Regions from separate parts of the Homo sapiens genome. Here region 1 is linked to region 2. Evidence: fine-mapped expression QTL. A gene starts in region 2. The other region holds a variant in brackets. All regions are shown on one strand. Distances are from middle to middle.

Region 1 (10,207 bases), 130 kb after region 2:
GTCAGTAGCAGCCTGCAGCTGCACATTCAAGCAGCTTCCATCCTACTGCCTGAGCCTTTGCTTTGCTGCTCCAGCTTCAGGTGCCCTTCAAAAATGTGCCAAGGCCCAGGGAAATGAGGGAATGCAATGGAAAGTGCACAGTGTCAGAGACCTGGCTTCTAGTTTCAGGTCTGCCACAGAATCACTCTGAGTTGGAAGAGTCTTTCAGAAAGGGCTCCTACTTAGGTGGTTGTCAGATGCTGGTTCATGCAACGGCTGTGCTAGAATTACCTGGGGAGCTTTTGCAAAACACGGATCACCCCCTAGGTGCCACTCCAGGAAATTCTAAGCTACTCATTCTGGGATGGGTCCCTGAAGTCTATTTTTAAGAGGCTCCCAAGTGATTGACAGGCACTCAGGTGGGAGATCCAGTCCACCTGCCATCTGTTGCTTGAATCCTTCTTATAGCCAAATAGCCATCTGGTCTCATTGTAAACATTTCCAGGGATAGGCAGCTCAGTATCTACTAAAGTAGCCTTTTTCCTCTTTGGGCTTTCATGTTGCTTTTCCCTATATTCTCTATACTGAACCAAAATTAGTTTCCCTTTAGCTTCTGCCAAGTCATCTTAATCTACCTTTTGGTATGAGGCATAGAAGTCTAATCCTTTTCACAGTTGAAGGTCCTTTGGATAGCTGAAGGCAACCATCTCCTCTACCTTCCTATCCTGCTTTGTTCTACCTTTACCCCTCCCTAGGCCTTTCTTCTCCGTTGCATTCAACTGCTTCTCAGGCAACATGTTATGCTCCTCTGAAAATATACACTCTGGTCTGCCTAACTAGTGAAATGACCAAGCAAGTCACAATCTTTTTAGTTACAAAGCTTTACATATTTTCAACACAAGTACATAGAATTGATTTTCCTTATCTAGCAAATGGAAATAGAAAGGTAATAAGGATTGCAGTATCACTAAACCAGCTGGGGGCAATGGTTCATGCCTATAATCCTAGCACGTTGGGAGCCAAGTTGGGAGGATGGCTTCAGGCCAGGAGTTTAAGACCAGCCTGGGTAACCGAGCAAGACCCCATCTCTACAAAAAATTTAAAATGTTAGCTGGGTGTGGTGTGTGCACTTGTAGTCCTAGCTACTCAGGAGGCTGAGGTGGTAGGATTGCCTGAGTCCAGGAAGTTGAGGCTGCAGTGAGCCATGATTGTGCCACTGCATTCCAGCCTGGATGACACAGTGAGAAAAAAAACAAAAAAAAATCCCCAAAGCCCACTATCAATAAACCATGATGGGCTGGGTGTGGTGGTTCATGCTTGTAATCCCAGCACTTTGGGAGGCTGAGGCGGGTGGATCACAAGGTCAGGAGCTTGAGACCAGCCTGGCCAACATGAAACCCTGTCTCTACTGAAAATACAAAAATTAGCCAGGCATGGTGGTGCACGCCTGTAGTCCCAGCCTCTTGGGAGGCTGAGGCAGGACAATCACTAGAACCCAGGAGGTGGAGGCTGCAGCGAGCCAAGATTGCACCATTGCACTCCAGCCTGGGCGACAGAGCAAGACTCCGTCTCAAAAAAATAAAATAAAATAAATAAGCCATGATACAGCATAAATGCTACTGAAAGCCAATGACAAGCCTAACGGAGAGCATTTTACGAATTCTATAAAAATGCCTACTCTCCCTTCCTGAAGCAGGCAGCCTCAGGCAGTCAAGGGGGAATCTCAAGTCAGGATTATTCTTTATATAGAGGCAGCTATGGTGCAATGGAAAGAACAATGAACTTTGCATAACTGACGTAACCTTTTTTTCTAAGCTTGTTTCCTATTTGTAAAAGTAAAAAAAAAAAGGCCTGTCGCAGTGACTCATGCCTGTAATCCCAACGGTTTGGGAGGCCAAGGCGGGCGGATCACGAGGTCAGGAGATTGAGACCATCCTAGCTAACATGGTGAAACTCCATCTCTACTAAAAATACAAAAAATTAGCTGGGCGTGGTGGCGGGTGCCTGTAATCCCAGCTACTCAGTAGGCTGAGGCAGGAGAATCGCTTGAACCCAGGAGGCGGAGCTTGCAGTGAGCCGAGATCACGCCATGGCACTCCAGCCTGAGCCACAGAGTGAGACTCTGTCTTTAAAAATAAAAAAGTAAAAACAAAACAAAACAAAACCATTGACAATTAAATCAAAATAAGATGATACGTGGCACAAGCCTGGCACAGAGAAATGGCTCAATGTGTTACTTCTTATAATTCTAACCATTTCTGTCAGAAATTATCTATTTGTTTACCTGCTATATTTTCCCTTGCCACTGGAGAGAATGCCGCCACTCAGCGTGCCCCCTGAGAGGGCTGCAAAGCTGGCCGTTTCGCTGTAAGGACCTTGCATAACACTAAGTCCATCTGTAGGGCTTCCACTAGTGCTCAATACACTAGTCAGGCCTTCAATGCTGCTTTCCCCAATGCTGGGATTCTTGAGGGCTCTCCAGGCATCTGCCACTGGGGATAGAACCAAACATCCAATTCAAGACAGCAGAGCATCAAAACAGTCAGTAGGCATTTTCCTGCAATGACTTTTCAGAGAACTAATGTATTTACTTAATGAACAGGTACTGTGTGCAGTCGCCACATATCAGGTGTTTTAACATATGTTCATATTTAATCCTCCAAATAACTAGGCATTAATAGCCTCAATTTTAGATGAGAAAACTAAAATTTAAAACTAAATGACTTGTCCAAGGCCATGGTAGTTACATGAAACTATAACTCTGATTCCAAGGCCACTATTCTTTCCACTACACTGTTGCTTCCATGTAACCAAACGTGAAGATTTAAAAAATATGTTTGGGTCATGTGCTGATTTTAATAGGAAGCTTCTAGTAGAAAGCTAGAAAAACCGGCCGGGCGCGGTGGCTCACGCCTGTACTTCCAGCACTTTGGGAGGCCGAGGCGGGCGGATCACGAGGTCAGGAGATGGAGACCATCCTGGCTAACACGGTGAAACCCCATCTCTACTAAAAATACAAAAAATTTAGCCGGGCGTGGTGGCGGGTGCCTGTAGTCCCAGCTACTCGGGAGGCTGAGGCAGGAGAATGACGCGAACCCAGGAGCCGGAGCCTGCAGTGAGCCAGGACCATGCCACTGCACTCCAGCCTGGGCAACAGAGCAAGACTCCGTCTCAAAAAAAAAAAAAGAAAAGAAAAAAGGAAGCTAGAAAAACCTTTGGGGTTTTCTACGTTACTTGTGCCCTACGTTACTTACTACGAGTAGAAACCACATTAAAGTAAAAGTCAGAAGACTTGCCCTAGTCTCAGCTCTGTGAAGCTCTTAATAGATAGTAAGATGAAAGCTTAAAGAAATTCCCATTTAGGCCAGATGTGGTGGCTCACACCTGTAATCCCAGCACTTTGGGAGGCCAAGGTGGGCGGATCATGGGGTGAGGAGATCGAGATCTTCCTGGCTAACACGGTGAAACACCAAACCCCGTCTATACTAAAAAAAAAAAATTAGCCAGGCGTGGTGGCACGTTGCTGTAGTCCCAGCTACTCAGGAGGCTGAGGCAGGAGAATCACTTGAACCTGGGAGGCGGAGGTTGCAGTGAACCGAGATCGCGACATCGTACTCCAGCCTGGGTGACAGAGACTCCGTCTCAAAAAAAAAAAAAGAAATTCCCATTTAAATGGGGATAACAGCTCCATCCTCCCTCGTCAGAGAGCTGTTTGTTGTAAAAAGCAAGTGAGATAATTGTGTAAAATACTCTGAAAATTATCAAGTACTGTGCAGATATAAAGATGTTATTATAATCACTACTACTACCAGCATACTTGGAGTTACTTGGATTCCTACTAGTTTGTACCTGCCACACAGAGGCAAGTACCAGGGGAATTAACCTAATAACTTTGGAACAAAGAAATGAAAAGCTAAAAATACTTTACCCCCTACAAAGCTCATTATCCAAAGTAATCCAATGACAATCTCCCTGTAAAATGCGCTGAATTTTACTGATTTTTATCTTGTATATCATAAATTCAAATGGAAATAAACATCCTGCTTTTTACCTGTGATTGGACCATCATCTTCATCAAATTCAATTTTCACTCCTTTTCCGTTGGCTGTGCTAACTCCACAGCCGCCTCCACGACAAAGAGAAATGGGCACAACCCCATAAACATATGCCAGCATAATGGGGACACCAATACCTGGGGGAAGAGAAGGAAACATGTCAGCTGGCTATTAGGTTGCAAGTGCCCTGAATTCTTCTTCCCAGTCTGGGCATGGACAAACCACTTTATAAAGAAAGGAAGACAGAAAGTGGCTATCCCAAAAAGGTGGCCTGGTGTAACAGAATGATGACCAGGCTAGAAATCAGAAAGGTCTGGATTAGATTCTTGGCTCCATTTACTAGCTGTATAACCTTGGACCTATCTTCCCAGGGTTGTCAATAATCAAATGAGAATGCTATGTACTGTGTTTTGCAC[A/G]GTAAATATATGTTGCTTTCATTTTCCCCTCTTCTAATCACTGCTGAAATGCTAACCCAATCAAGAGCCAATCAAGAATCAAATATTAAATAAGTGACTACTGCTTGGAGTTTAGGATCTCCTCAGGATGTTAATTCCAAAATCTTACTGCTGTGTGAGGTAGAATGGCTTAGCTGTTAAGAGAACAGGATCTGAAGGCAGATTAACTTGATTCATGTCCCAGCTAAGTGACCTTGGGAAAATTACTGCACCTTTCTTTTTTTTTTTTGAGACGGAGTCTCACTCTGTTGCCCAGGCTGGAGTGCAGTGGCACGATCTCGGCTCACTGCAAGCTCCGCCTCCCAGGTTCACGCCATTCTCCTGCCTCAGCCTCCCAAGTAGCTGGGACTACAGGCACCCGCTACCACACCCGGCTGATTTTCTGTATTTTTAGTAGAGATGGGGTTTCACCGTGTTAGCCAGGATGGTCTCGATCTCCTGACCTCGTGATCCGCCCGCCTCGGCCTCCCAAAACACTGGAATTACAGGCGTGAGCCACTGCGCCCAGCCAATTACTGCACCTTTCTATTAAAATTGTGCTTCCTTTTGTAAGGATTGTGAGGATTAAATAAATTAATATATGCAAAAGTCTCAGAACCACTCCTGGCACATGAAGAGCCACATTAAATGTTAGTTACACTATTATTATTCTAAAACAAACTCTTATGCCTCCCAAAGTAATGTGAAGCATTAAACAAATCAAAACAAAAGTAATTTTGTTTTGTGGATTTCATGGCAAGTAGAGAAGGAAGATGAAAGGTGAAAACTAGGGCTTAAAATAAGTTTCTGTAATTCAACCTTTTCTATGTGCCAAATGGAGTTCTAGGCACTAACTTAAGAACAAAAGATTGCACACTCTGATAATTTGGTGTGCTTGAAAAACTTAAAAATAATCATAATCATGGTGCCTAACAGAATTTACTATCAAGGTGGGTTCGCATAAAATGTAGGAGTCTTTGAGAAACATCTGGCCATCTGGCTAAACTGCTATGGTCAGAAAGCTGAGAGAGAAGAGGTGTGGTCCTGACTAGCTTACCAACACTAACTGCAGCAATAACTGGGGATGCAATGACCGACAAAGTCACTCCTCCAGTGATAGCCAAATTCCTCTTGTGTTTGGAGGTTTTCCTTCCCTCATACCTGCTGTGAATCTAAGAATAAAAAAAGAAAATCCAGGTCAGCAGGTTAGGACATCAATCTTTTGCCAGAGAAAAAAAGGACAGGTGAATATTCACTTGTAAGTTATCTATATTAAAACATATCCTCTACCCCAAATAGGCATCTTTATCAAATTTTAACCTAACTCAGACCTGGAAGATATAAAGTAATACAGGCAAAGTTAATCCAAAAAGAGACAAAATAACTCCAGCAGAATGAAGTAAGCATTTTACCTTCTTCTTTTATTTTTTTTTTTGGAGTCTGTCATGCAGGCTGGAGTGCAGTGGTGCGATCTTGGCTCACTGCAACCTCTACGTCCCTGGGCTCAAGCAATCCTCCCACCTCAGCCTCCCTAGTAGCTGGGACTGTAGGCACATGCCACCATACCCAGCTAATTTTTCTATTTTTTTGGGTACAGATGGGTTTTGTCATGTTGCCCAGGCTGGTCTCAAACACCTGGGCTCAACTGATCTACCTGCCTTGGCTTCCCAAAGTGCTAGGCCACGTATTACAAATGTGAACCATCATGCCTGGCCCAGCATTCTACCTTTAAGTCACTGAGACAAGCCAGGCCCAGGATGTTAATAAGAACTTTCAGATCTCATGGGGGTTTATGAAAATCCATTTAAGAAAGTAAGGTTATTTTTATCTAAGAACCAGCTGGTTTTCAGGCAGCTCTGAAACATAGCTCCTTCCCATTTCCCTCAAACCTTTACTAACGAACCTAAAGTTGAAACAAGCACAGAAACCAGCATGTCTTTCTTACCTTCCTTCCAACATAAACAGGAATGCCAATGACCATGGCAGGAATGGCAATGCCAGCAATGAGAGAAATCCCCACTGGAGCACCAATCAACGTGCCCAGCTGCCAAAGAATTTTCTTCTTACGGCTCCATGGCTTCTTGCCCCAGAATGTACAGCCAGAGGGGCTGCAGGGGAAACAGACTGAAGTTAATGTCAACATTACAAATACAGCTAGTATTATCATAGGGCTTGATAACAGCAACAGCCTTCTTTTCAGTAAGGATTAACAGAAGAGTTTATGGGAAATGAATACATTACACAAGGGAGAGCAAAGGACAAGGCCAGACTATTAGAGCTCTGGGCTCTTTAACTTTTTTGGTTGTTGTTGTAAAGACAGGCTTCCAGACTTGAAATTCCTTTTCCATTCTTCTCTGCTGAATTCTGTCTTCCCTAACCCACCAAAACTGATCTAGCTTCCATGACTGACAATACTTGGGATGCTGCATAGCCTTATGCACTTGACATCCCATCCAGACACACTGCACCCTGCACTAATGAACACTCTGATTTGTGTAGTTTTCTTGGCATATGTCCTACCATACCTAATAGATACTGCAAACCATGTTCGTGGGAGAGGATATAAAAAGACCTCATCATAACCTTTCTATCAGTTTGGTATTCTGAGTTTGGCTACTTTTACAGTCAGCCCTTCTGTGCCCAACCATTTTTGCCCATTCTCTTTGTGCTATCTTCTCCACTAGAAGGGATAAACAATTTTGAAAATAGGGATCATGTCTTACTCACCCCTATGTCCCCAATGACTAGCACACAGTAAGTACTCAAATGTTCGACAAATTGGCAATGAAGGTGTTGTGTTTCATTTACACAATGAATGTTTGTTTGTAAATATTAACACATTTTGTTTATTTGTAAATATTAGCAAACATTTTGTTTGTAAATATTAACTCCTCCACAACATTTTAATATTCACTCAATGAGGCTGGGCGCGGTGGCTCGCGCTTGTAATCCCAGAACTTTGGGAGGCCGAGGCAGGCGGACCACCTGAGGTTCGAGTTCGAGACCAGGCTGGCTAACATGGTGAAACCCCGCCTCCACTAAAAATACAAAAATTAGCTGGGCATGGTGGCAGGTGCCTGTAATCCCAGCTACTTAGGAGGCTGAGGCAGGACAATCACTTGAACCTGGGAGGTGGAGGTTGCAGTGAGTCGAGATCGAGCCACTGCACTCCAGCCTGGGCGACAGAGAGAAACTCTGTCTTAAAAAAAAAAAAAAAAAGAATTCACTTAATGAATTCCTTGGGAACTCACTAAATGCAAAAAACTGTAAAAAGGTCACAACTCTAGCCTCAAGATACTTACAGTTTAGTAAGATAAGATAGGTACGTGAAGTGTAAAGTACTGACGATATTTATGACAAAAGATAAAAGAAAGTCAAAGAATGAGGCGGAAAAAGGAGAGGCAACATGGATGAAAGGCATTTAAGTGGCTCTTAAAAGATAAGAACTGAACAAGTTGAGATAAAAGGAGGATACTGGAAGGTAGGCAGAAAGCATTCTAGGCAAAGGAAAGAACATGAACAAGTATGGAGGCAAGACAGCAAAAGGGAAAAAGCAAGTCCAGACTACCTGTAATATGGCAAGCAAAGAAAGGTAGAAACAGAATAGTAGCTGGTGAAAACATGATTAGAGGAGCATGTCAGAAGAAGTTTTCACAGCTTCCTTAAACCTGTAATGAGAGAACGGATGTGTCTTTTTGACATCCTTTTCCCTAAATCAGTAAGAGAATGAGACTACGAAAGGAATGGATGCATTTCCCATCTTACCTGAGGTAATGCAAGTCTGAGATCTCTTTCATACAAAGCCAACAGAATTCACAGCCACACACTGCACAGGTCATGTGATTACAGCTTCCATCATTCATCTTGATAATGTATGCACTGCATCGTGGGCATGGCTTGATGTCATCTGCTATGAGTGGGGGAAGAATGGGTAGAAAAAATACCCCTAGTTAAATCCAGTTTGATTTAATTGTTCCTAGGAGTATATATAAGAAATGAGGCAGCAGTCAAGAACTCTTCACTGAACACTCCAAATTGTACAACCCACTTTACTGGAAGGTTGGCTATGTCTAGACCTCAGGAATTTTCATAAAATGAATCCTGTCTCTTATTGAGCTGCCTATCCCAACAACTGGCATCTTACACAGCACTTGAACCACATTCTAGCAAGGAGATTTCCTTAGGGAGAAAGATGTTTCCAAGAAAAATGAAATTTCTACCAGTCGATAGGCTGGTAGATTTAAAAGAAGAATCCTACAGAAAGAATAGCCTGCAGCCTGGAATTAGCTTTACATTTTTAAAAACTTTAGTTTGGGAAATTTATTTTTCAGGTTCAACATGTATCATTGTGATTTGCTGTTAACATAGCCCACAATCCCTTCCCATGATACTTTCAAATTCAAAACCTAAAAACAACTGGGTATGCTATCTACCATATACTTGGTAATTTTCAGAGCAAGTTATGAACTATCCTAATAAAATGACAATTTAGGAAATTATGCTGTGCCAGGAAAAAGTGAATGGCAAAATCTTTCCTACTAGCCTCTCCCAAATGACATCAGCAAAATAAAAGTACAAAGCAATAAATCCACTGACATTTTAAAATAGGTTTCCTCTGACTCGCCAAGGTTGGAGCTGAATGTGTGACATTCCTCCTTTTAAGGTTAATCATTAATCTATACTAATACTGTTTCCTTTTCTTCAATCTGTACTCTACTTCCAAAGGCAGTGAGGCACTTAAGTCAGCTTGAAGGCAAACAGCACAGGTTTAATACTAATTAAATGTCTTTCTGTTCACAATGAAAGTTTTGAAAAAGCCCCTAGCAAAACAAAATGAACTAATTGCTCTCCAATCTGAGACATATTACTAAGAAAGTAGGAACTACATAATTCAATTTTGTTGCATTTCAATTTTATATAGTTGGATAACCTATAATGGTCAGAGAGGGAAGTGCTATCTTTATTATAATATTGAAAGTATTATCAAATGATATTTTCTGCTCTCTGATCCTTTGGAGTACTTGGGTTATACAATAAGATAATTTCTTTCAGCTATGGGCTCACATCATGAAATACCAAATAAAGAGACAATGAGATAATGCCAACTTATACCTGGTCCAGATTCTTGCCCATAACTGAGACCTGAAGTGTGTTTGGTCCGAACTCGTAAAGTCTGGGCCCTCTGTTGACGGGCCATATCGCATGTCTGATTTGGATGCCATATCTGCTTGCAGTGGTAGCAGAACTCAGTCTGGCAACCTTCCCTCTCACAAGTTAGCTTCGGGCAGCTGGCACAGCCATAGGCAATAACAGCATAACTAGGTAAGGAAACAGTAAGAGATACCAGTAAGGTAAGAATGATCTAACCAAAAGAGACATTATTCATCAGAGTTAACAATGTTTGGCACTACCCCACTATCACATATGATACAGAGAAAAGAATACACATACACACATATACACACACAAGCACATTTGACCAACTGTAAAATATATCCCATGTGAGAAAGTAAACTTTTTTTTTTTGAGACAGTCTTGCTCTGTCACCCAGGCTGGATTGTGGAGTGCAGTGGTGTAATCTCGGCTTACTACAACCTCCACCTCCCAGGTTCAAGCAATTCTCCTGCCACAGACTCCCTAGTAGCTGGGATTACAGGTGCAAGCCACCACGCCTGGCTAATTTTTTTTGTATTTTTAGTAGAGATGGGGTTTCACCATGTTGGCCAGGCTGGTCTCAAA
Region 2 (9,840 bases):
ATGCTCTTGACTTCTTACTTCACTCCCCAACCATCTTTTTCACTGATAGTTTCACTCCTACTACAGTAAATGGTACCATCATTTAGAGTTGTTCAAGGACTCCAAAACTGCTCTTCAACCCTCCTATTTCTCTCTGCCTCTACATCACCACCCAAATCCAGGCCCTATCAGATCACACCAGGATTACCGTAACATTCTCCTAACAGGTCTCCCAAATCTACTCTTACTCCCTCCAATCCAAGTTCTTTTTTATTTTTTTGAGACGGAGTCTTGCTCTGTCACCCAAGCTGGAGTGCAGTGATGCAATCCTGAGTCACTGCAACCTCTGCTCCCGGGTTCAAACGATTCTCCTGCTTCAGTCTCCCAAATAGCTGGAATTACAGGTGCCCGCCACCAGGCCAGAGAAATTTTTGTATTTTTAGTAGAGATGGGGTTTCACTATGTTGGCCAGGCTGGTCTTGAACTCCCAACCTCAAGTGATCTGCCCGTGTGGGCCTCCCAAAGTGTTGGGATTACCGGCATGAGCCACTGCGCTTGGCCCCTCCAATCCATGTTCTAAAAGGTAGCCAGAGACAGTCTTTTAAAACTCAAAAACTTCTTTAAAACTCATTTTCCTTTTTACAAACCTTTAATGATTTCTTTTTGTCCTATGACAGTATTGGAAAAATTCTAACAGGCCAGTGTACCCCGATAAGAGGTTGTAGTGTTTCCTCAAGTTACGGTTTTGGGAGGCTGTCAGAAACCATGATAGACTGCTGGTTTGAATCATGTTTTACCAGGACTTGTTAAACTCCTGTGCTCCAAGTCTTTTGGCAGCTGATCCCGCATGCTCAAGAGCACCCCTGACAACGTGGACACTTGGAGGGTTCTCACCATCCAAGAAGATGTCACATTACTTAGCCTTTAAAACCTGAGTGAGGCCGGGCACTGTGGCTCACTCTGTAATCCCAGCACTTTGGGACGCCGAATTTGGCGGATAACTTGAGGTCAGGAATTTGAGACCAGCCTGGCCAGCATGGTGAAACCCCGTCTCTACTAAAAATACAAAAATTAGCCCGGCGTGGTGGTGCACGTCTGTAATCCCAGCTACTCAGGAGGCTGAGGCAGGAGAATCACTTGAGCCCAGGAGGCAGAGGTTGCAGTGAGCTGAGATTGTGCCATTGCACTCCAGCCTGGCCGACAAGAGATAAACTCCGTTCCAGAAAAAAAATCCCCAAAACAAAAAACCCAATTGAGTCAATTCTAATAGTTTTGTGTATTTTTAGTCTCCAACCAGCACTATTTTATGGAGAGAGAATAGGAAACAAAGAATCTAGCTAGGGGAAGCGTGCAAAAACCTTTGGTTAAGACTAAGTTGTAAATGGAATAACCCAAATGTCCATCAACTGATGAACGGATAAACAAAATGTATATCCATACAACAGAGTATCATTCAACCATAAAAAGGAATGACGTTCTGCTAGGTGCAAATACATGCATGAACTTTGAAAACATTATGCTAAGTGCAAAAAGTCAGACACAACAAACATATTGTATGATTCTAGTTACAGGAAATGCCCAGAATACGCAAATACCTGGAGACAGAGAGTAGATTAGTGTTTCTCTAAGGCTAGGAGTAGTGGGTAATAGGTAGCGTCTGCTAACGGGTGCAAGTTTTATTAGATAGTGTGATGGTTGTGGCCGGGAGCCGTGGCTCACGCCTGTAATCCCAGCACTCTGGGAGGCCAAGGAGGGTGGATCACGAGGTCAGGAGATCGAGACCACCCTGGCTAACACGGTGAAACCCCGTCTCTACTAAAAATACAAAAAATTAGCCGGGCGTGGGGGCGGTCACCTGTAGTCCCAGCTACTCGGGAGGCTGAGGCAGGAGAATGGCGTGAACCTGGGAGGCGGAGGTTGCAATGAGCCGAGATTGGGCCACTGCACTCCAGCCTGGGCGACAGAGCGAGACTCCGCCTCAAAAAAAAAAAAAAAAAAAAAGATAGTGTGATGGTTGCACAACCTTGTGAACATACTAAAACCCACTGAATTGTGCACTTTAAAAGGGTGAATTTTATAGTATGTGAAGTACATCTCTAAAAAGAAAAAACAGAACAGGCTGTGTGGCCCAACTGATTTATCACTACTCTTAGAAGGAAGCCCAATTTAAAATTGAACAGAATAAGGCCTGCAAGGCTCCCGTGACTTGGTCCCTGCCTACCTCTCTTAAACAAATAAATAAAATGTATACTATGTAGAAACAATAACAAAAAAAAGGCAGAGCAAGGTATGGGGCAGTTCTGGTGCCAGAGGGTTTGTTATTTAAATAAAGTGGTCGGAAATCATGCGTCGCTGATAAGGTGACAACAGTCAGAAGCCTGAAAAAGTTAAGGGGTAAGCAATATAAATATTTAAGTGCTTCCTCATAACTTTGCTCACTCCACTCCAGCTAAATTTGCCACAATTTCTGTTTCCTCCATCTGAAATGCTCTCCCTCCTTATTCTTCCATTCTTCCTCTGGTTCACTTCTACTCCTGTAGTTCTTGGTAACAAACGGAACATTTGTGGAGTGAGGGGGGGGGATCCATTTCCTTCAAGGCGCAGTTTGGAGGTCACTTCCTCAGGGAAGCCTTCCCTTCTCTCTTTCCCTTTAAAGCTCCCAGTATAGCATCTTCCAGTACTTACTTGAACCGTAATGGGTCATTTTTAACGTCTGATCCCCTTCAGACAAGCTCTGGCAGGCCCTTGACGTATCCCCAGCGACTAAGCACCACGTCTGGCACTTAATAGGGGGGTGGAATGGGAGTCCTGGATTCAAAGTTTGGCTCCAACACAAGACAACTGGACGCAAGAGGTGAGCCCACTGTGATTTCTGGGGAACCCAGGGAAGGGCTGCTTGATTGACTGACCGACCAGCAGTGAGATCTACAGGCTCTCTCAGAGCTGCGCCAGCGCCGAGTCCCCGGCCCCACATACTTAGAACCCCGTAATGGGGCTCAAAATCACTGAACCTCGGGCTCCTAATCCCCAACGGCGCATTTCCAACCCCCAGGCCTGACCTGCAGGTTCCGGGTGATAAGGTGCAGTTTCTCTTCAGGGCTGGGAGCGTCCCCCATGGCTCCGCTACCCCTGCTTCCCCCGCTCAGCCCGGCACCAGAGCCCCTTCCTGGGTCACCGTCGCCGCCGCGTGCCGGGAACTGTCACGCGAGTCCAGCCAGGTTGCATCAGCTGGGCTCGGCGCTCCGCTTACTCGGCCTGGACCCCTCCGGCAGCGGCCGGAAAAAGTGAGGAGCAGCAGAGAGTCGAGCAGGTCGATGAGACGGGAAAAGGTGGAGCCAGTGGGCACGGTGGGCGGTGCGGAGGGCGGGGCTGAGGCGCCTGAGCGGGGCACAACCCTCCTAGAGGCGGGACGGTTTCCTGCCAATCACTGCTGGTTTGCCCTCCCCCTGGTGTTGGCCCGGCTGACTCGGGGTAGGGGAGGTCGGGGAGGGGGCGATAAAATGGCGCAGGGGGCGGAGTGAGGCGCAGTCGTTCGCCCAGGCTTTGGCCCGGCTTCCGGAGGTGAAGAGCGGGAGGGACGAGGGGGTCGGCGTTACCCGGCTTGGAGGGGGATGGGGGCGCCTGTTGCTTCTCCAGGGGGTTGCGCACGCCGTCCGCCCCTTGGAGGGATTGGGAGGCCCACGCCCTGCTGCGAGAAGGGCGCGTTCTAGCTCCTGAGGTGATGGCGAGGGAATGTCCCTGCCCCTCCACCTCCAAGTCGGCGGGCGACAGATGCCCCTCACCCCGCTGAGGAAAAGGGAAGCTCCCTGGTCGTCTTGAGAGTCGGGGAGCGCCGTCTGCAGTCCCCTGCCCAGTGGGGGTGGGGGCCGCCTCTGTCCCGGCCGGCTCGGCGGGAGGCTGTTGCTGGCGGGAAGATAGCCGCGGGCTTTTCTGCCGCGTCTCGCGGGTGGGGGCAGGAAGAGGACGACCCATTCCCTGGGGAGATCTGAGGACGGTGGTCCCCGGGAGAGGAGCGCACAGCACAGGCCTGCTGAGGGGCGGGTTTGCCCCTACTGGGGGAGGGGCGGGGAGAAAACTCTCGCTTCTCCCGCTTTCCGCCGGGAGGCGGGAATTCGCGGTGTCCCCGGGGGAGGGAGACGCAAAGGCCCTTCCTGGAAGGCGACACCGTCCCGGGCCGTTGCATTTGTGAGAGAGAGCCAAGGCAGTATCCTCCAAAGGTTGGGCCTGGGCCACCCTTTCTCCGGCTCCTCAAGGGCTGGAGGCGGCGTCACCAGTTACTTCCAGGGCAAGAGGGAAAGCAGTTATTACCTCAGTGGGCCCTGGAAAGGTCCTAGAAGTGGTTGAATTGCCCACGGCCTGCCCTAACCTGATCTCCGGTGTTTTGTGTATTTATTAGGGACTCCAAGCTCTACCAGACCTGCCTGAAGTGTTTTAAAGCACATTTTCTTTTTGAAAAGAAACCTGTTGCTGCAGCTTAGCGCATCTGTTCTCTGTGTCCATGTGGGAGGAGAATCCTGGCACCCTCATCTAGTGAAATGTTACCTAAAGCAAAGATTTGCAGCCCTGGGTTGTTTTTTCCGTCCTGCAGTGTTTTTAGTTACTTCGAAGGAATTTGCAAAACTGTTACAGATAATTTCAGTTCTTTTTGATTTTTTGTAAATGTTGTGCCTATTTTTTATGGAGTGATAAAGCCTGCTGAGTGCGTTTCGTGCTGTGTGCTTCACATGTATTGCATTTGGGAAAGGTTGGAAATCAAAGGCCAGGGGGAAGTCTTGTCCACTGGAAATAATCTCTGCTCTTGGCTGTACCTGTCAGACCCTGCTTGGTAATGGTCTTGACTTTAGAGCTTGAAAGAGGATGTGGGCTTGCATCTGGTGTTGCAGTTTTAGTGGCCTCAATAAAGTAAGGCTTTGTGCTCGAAGGCAGTAGGTTTTCTGAGGTGAGATAAAAATAGAAAGGGAACCAGTTTCTGAGGTTGCAACCAGGAGGTTCGAGAACAGAGAGGGGGTGGTAAACTGAAGTGTGAAGAAGGGGGTGGACAGGTGAGAGAGATGTGGAAGGACAGAATGGGGTCACAGAAAGGATGGGGTGTAGAGGAACTAAGAAATAGAATTAGAAGATCGGAAAAATATTCTTCCCTTAAAAATGAAGGGATATGGCCAGACATGGTGGCTCACGCCTGTAATCCCAGCACTTGGGGAGGCCGAGGCCGGAGGATTGCTTGAGGCCAGGAGTTCAAGACTAGACTGGCCAACATAGCAAAACCCCATCTCTACTGTAAATACAAAAATTAGCCTAGCATGGTGGACGCCTGTAATCCCAGCTACTGGGAGGCTGTGGCATGAGAATCGCTTGAAACTGGGAGGCAGAGGTTGCAGTGAGCCCAGATCACGCCACTGCATTTCAGCCTGGGTGATTGAGTGAGACCCTGTCTCAAAAATAAAAATAAAATAAAAAAATAAAGGGGTCCCCATATTTTAAGTGGAGGTTACCAGACAAGTGCTAAGAAAGGTGGTAGATGGTAGACAGAGAAGTAAGCAAGCCTTCTTTTGACAGAGAAGTAATAAGTAAGGCTGTCTTTGGAATTTCACTGAAGAACTTCAGTTTTATATGAGGATTTCCCCCCTTGCACATTCATTAAATACCATGTTTTTTTAGTATAGAACTTTTAGGTTTAGAGTACTTTCATAAACATCCTATTTTTTCTCATGATAATCTGTGTTTGAAGTTAACAGTATTTACCCCCTTTTTAGATGCATGTTCTCATCTGTATTGAAGTTCAGAGACTTGAAGTGAATTGCTGAGGTCCAGTACCTCTATAAAGGATAGTTCAGTGAACATTAATTTGCATAATTTGCCGGATATTTCAGATGTCTACCTAGTCTGGTCTTCAGTGACAATATGGTTGAGTGCTGGATTAAACTAGATAAGAGTAGAGTATATTAGATAATTTCAAGCAGGGTCTAGGGGAAATTCCCTACCAGTTTAGCACTCTTTTTTCCTACCGTTCCTATGCTTTTTTTTTTTTTTTTTTTTGAGATGGAGTCTCGCTCTGTCACCCAGGCTGGAGTGCAGTGGTGCGATCTCAGTTCACTGCAACCTCCGCTTCCTGGGTTCCAGCGATTCTCCTGCTTCAGCCTCCCAAGTAGCTGGGATTACAGGCATGCACCACACACCCGGCTAATCTTTGTATTTTTAGTAGAGACAGGGTTTCACCATGTTGGCCAGGCTGGTCTTGAACTCCTGACCTCAGGTGATCCACCCACCTCAGCCTCCCAAAGTGCTGGGATTACAGGAATCAGCCTCTGCGCCTGGCCCTATGCTTCTCTTAAGACTCCAGGGATCGGGGCAATGATGGTGGTGGGGTGAAATAATAACTATGGCCACCAGTTATTTGTCTCTTATGCCATGCCTCTAGTGTGCCACATTTATGTTCACGATCTCATTTAATTCTTGCCACAACCCTATCAGGTAGGTACTGTGATATATGAGGACATTTGATACTTCACAGAGTATAATCATTGTATCTTTCCCATTGACTTCATAATTTTAAGATGTTTTTATTATTTCAAGCATATAAAAAAGTATAGTGGCTGGGTATGGTGGCTCAATGCCTGTAATCCCAGCACTTTGGAAAACCAATGCAGAAGGATCGCTTGACTCCAGGAGTTCAATACCAGCCTGGGCAACATAATGAGACTATGTCTCTACAAAAAATAAAAATAAAAAATTAGCTGTGTATGGTGGTGTGTACCTGTAGTCCCAGCAGCCCTGGGGTTCAAGGCTGCAGTGAGCTATGATCACGCCACTGTTTTCTGCCTGGGCAACAAACCTGAGACCCTGTCTCAAAAAAATAACAATAATTTAACAGTGTAAAAGTAACATAATGAACATTATTATACCTAGCATGCTGCTTTGTCTTAGGTTGCCATATTTGTTTCAGGTCTCTTCTTGCTATTTTTTTTTCCTTATTTATTTATTGTCATGTAGCCTAAGATGAGATATTGTTTTCTTAAGAAATAAAACATTGGCCGGGCGCGGTGGTTCACACCTGTAATCCCAGCACTTTGGGAGGCTGAGGCGGACGGATCACGAGGTCAGGAGATCAAGACCATCCTGAATTCCGGCCTTTCATGCATATTTTAATAATTTTGTGATATATGTATCCATACATAATACGTGGTATTGTGGCTTTTTTGTTGTTGTTTTTTGAGACTGACTCTTGCTCTGTCACCCAGGCTGGAGTGCAGTGGCGCGGTCTGGGCTCACTGCAACCTCTGCCTCCTGGGTTCAAACAGTTCCCCTGCCTCAGCCTCTCGAATAGCTGGGGTTATAGGTGCGCGCCACCAAGCCCAGCTAATTTTTGTACTTTTAGTAGAGTTGGGGTTTCACCAGGTTGGTCCAGATGGTCTCGAACTCCTGACCTCGTGATCCGCCCTCCTCGGCCTCCCAAAGTGCTAGGATTACAGGCGTGAGCCACTGCGCCTGGCCTGTTTCTTTTTTCTTTCTTTCTTTTTTTTTTTTTTGATACAGTTTTACTCTGTCACCCAGGCTGGAGTGTAGTGGTGCGATCTCTGCCCACTGCAACCTCCGCCTCCTGGGTTTCAGCGAGTCTCCTGCCTCAGACTTCTGAATAGCTGGGGCTACAGGCCCGCGTCACCATGCCCAGCTAAATTTTCTTTGTAGTTTTAGTAGAAATGGGGTTCCGCCATGTTGGTCAGGCTGGTCTCGAACTCCTGGCCTCAAGTGATCCGCCCAACTTAGCCTCCGAAAGTGCTGGGATTACAGGCGTAAGCCATCTCGCGTATTGTTTTTTTAATAAAGTAATTGCAGGGGGAAAAGATCTGAAATTTTTAGATTAAAATACACATAAGACATTATCAGCCAGTCACATTGTATGGACCTTACTTGGATACTGATTATTTTTTAGCCTTAAAAAAAAATATGACATAAGATAATTGGAAATCTGAACTGTATATTTTATGATAAGGAATTCTTGTTATTTACAGATGAAATGATACAATGCCTGGGATTTGCTTCAAAACAATCTGGTAAAGGTGGGAAGTGGATGGGGCAAGATTAGCTATGAGTTGATAGTCATTGGGGTTGAGTGATGGGTATGTGGTGGTTCATTATACTATTATGTTACTTATGTATATGTTTTACTTTCTTTATAATAAGTACTTTTGAAAATGAGGAAATGGCCGGGCGCGGTGGCTCACGCCTGTAATCCCAGCACTTTGGGAGGCCGAGGCGGGCGGATCACCTGAGGTCAGGAGATCAAGACCATCCTGGCTAACACTGTGAAACCCCGTCTCTACTAAAAATACAAAAATTAGCCAGGCGTGGTGGCGGGCGCCTGCAGTCCCAGCTACTCGGGAGGCTGAGTGAAGCAGGAGAATGGTGTGAACCCGGGAGGCAGACAGAGCTTGCAGTGAGCCGAGATCGCGCCACTGCACTCCAGTCTGGGCTACAGAGCTAGACTCCGTTTCAAAAAAAAAAAAAAAAAAAGAGGAAGTAACATCAGACATCAGAAAGAGAATGGTTTGTACAAATTAAAATTATCTCCTCCTCTCTATATATACCATATATATGGTATTGTTTTGTATACTTTTGTTCCCAGATCTATTGGAACATAAGAAGCTCAGAAAAGCCCATTTTTTTGCATCTGAATGTCATGTTGTGTAGGAATTGATTATTGCAATGGTTACGAAGGATATTGGTCCTATTAAGGTGGCTTAAAATATTTTTTCCAAGAGACCAAAAGCCCTCTTTGGTCTTTACTCTTGCACAGTTTGTTATAGATTGTACTGAATTTAGAAGGCCTGAGTTTGGATTCTAGCTCTGCCATTTGCTGACCAATCCTGTGCAAGTCTGTCACAGATGTAGTGGGAAAAACATTGCATTTGGAATTAGACCTGGGTTTCGATCCTTGTTCTAACATTATTAGCTATGTATACTCAGTTAAGTTACTTCATGCTTCTGAACTTTAGTTTCCCAAGAGGGAAAAATCTATTGAACTCTCCATTTGGCCAACCAAGGGCTTGAACTAGACCTTTTGTAAGGAGTTAGAATGGGGGGCAATGGCCCAGAAAGGGCATCTAAGAAATGTAGCTGCTTAACCCCAGTGCCTGTGATAACCTGTCTGACAACCATAAATTTTCTTAAGTCAAAGAATGTTTTCCATACTAAACTTTTTTTTCTAACTGCTTCCTAAAGAAATGAATAACTCAGTCACTAATGCAGAGAAATTACTTTTCATAGAGGCAGCTGCTTCAACACCTAGAACTCTCAACAATTGCTGGAATATAGTATTGGTAAAATAAAATAAGTTTTAGCAGCTCTAGGTTTAAATACAACAAAATGATTTCTTTGATAAGATTAATTTTACAGAATTGTGTTGAGAGGCTAAGTTAGAGTCGTAAAATGTGTCTCAGAGCACCTGGTTTATAATAGGTATTTAGTATTTCTTTTTCTCCCATTTCATTTCTAATATGAGTAAGTTTAACTAGGTCCCTTCTAATTCTAGAACTCTATAATCCCTCCCTTTGCTTCTCTTTCTCTAGTACTTTATTGTCCATACCATTTTATATTATCTCATGTTGGTGTTTAATTTTCAGTGTTGTTTCTCTAGCAAGATTATACATTAAGATTATACATTACGTATTATACATTATGAGGGCAGGAGCTATACCTTGATTTGTTGGAAATCATAAAGAGACATATGCAGCTTGTGGTGTGTGATGATTGTAGCTCAAAAAATATCTTCTAAAAGAATGCATGAACTAGGCTGGGTGCAGTGGCTCACGCCTATAATCCCAGCACTTTGGGAGGCCGAGGCAGGCGGATCACAAGGTCAGG

What was found. PIP is the estimated chance that this variant, and not a neighbour inherited with it, causes the effect. A credible set is the group of variants that fine-mapping cannot tell apart.
Region 1: its variant is the best candidate, but not a certain one, in a credible set for the expression of YARS1 in whole blood (INTERVAL, PIP 0.59).

Annotation. Positions count from the first base shown.
Region 1 is chr1:32,939,989-32,950,195 of GRCh38, forward strand. RNF19B (ring finger protein 19B) reads right to left here. Exons shown (of 9, transcript NM_001300826.2): 2 at 9,581-9,786; 3 at 8,234-8,375; 4 at 6,414-6,576; 5 at 5,526-5,640; 6 at 4,031-4,171; 7 at 2,264-2,471. Among named protein-coding and RNA genes, the nearest start is that of RNF19B, 20 kb to the right of the region's middle. RefSeq lists an enhancer at 7,565-8,066. The variant A/G (reference allele first, on the strand shown) is at 4,451.
Region 2 is chr1:32,814,150-32,823,989 of GRCh38, forward strand. YARS1 (tyrosyl-tRNA synthetase 1) reads right to left here and starts at 3,209. Exons shown (of 13, transcript NM_003680.4): 1 at 3,039-3,209. The coding sequence starts at 3,095. It overlaps S100PBP (S100P binding protein), which reads left to right and starts at 3,504. Exons shown (of 7, transcript NM_022753.4): 1 at 3,504-3,540. RefSeq lists enhancers at 2,321-2,822, 2,823-3,322, 3,071-3,380, 3,748-3,917, 4,351-4,460 and 2 more.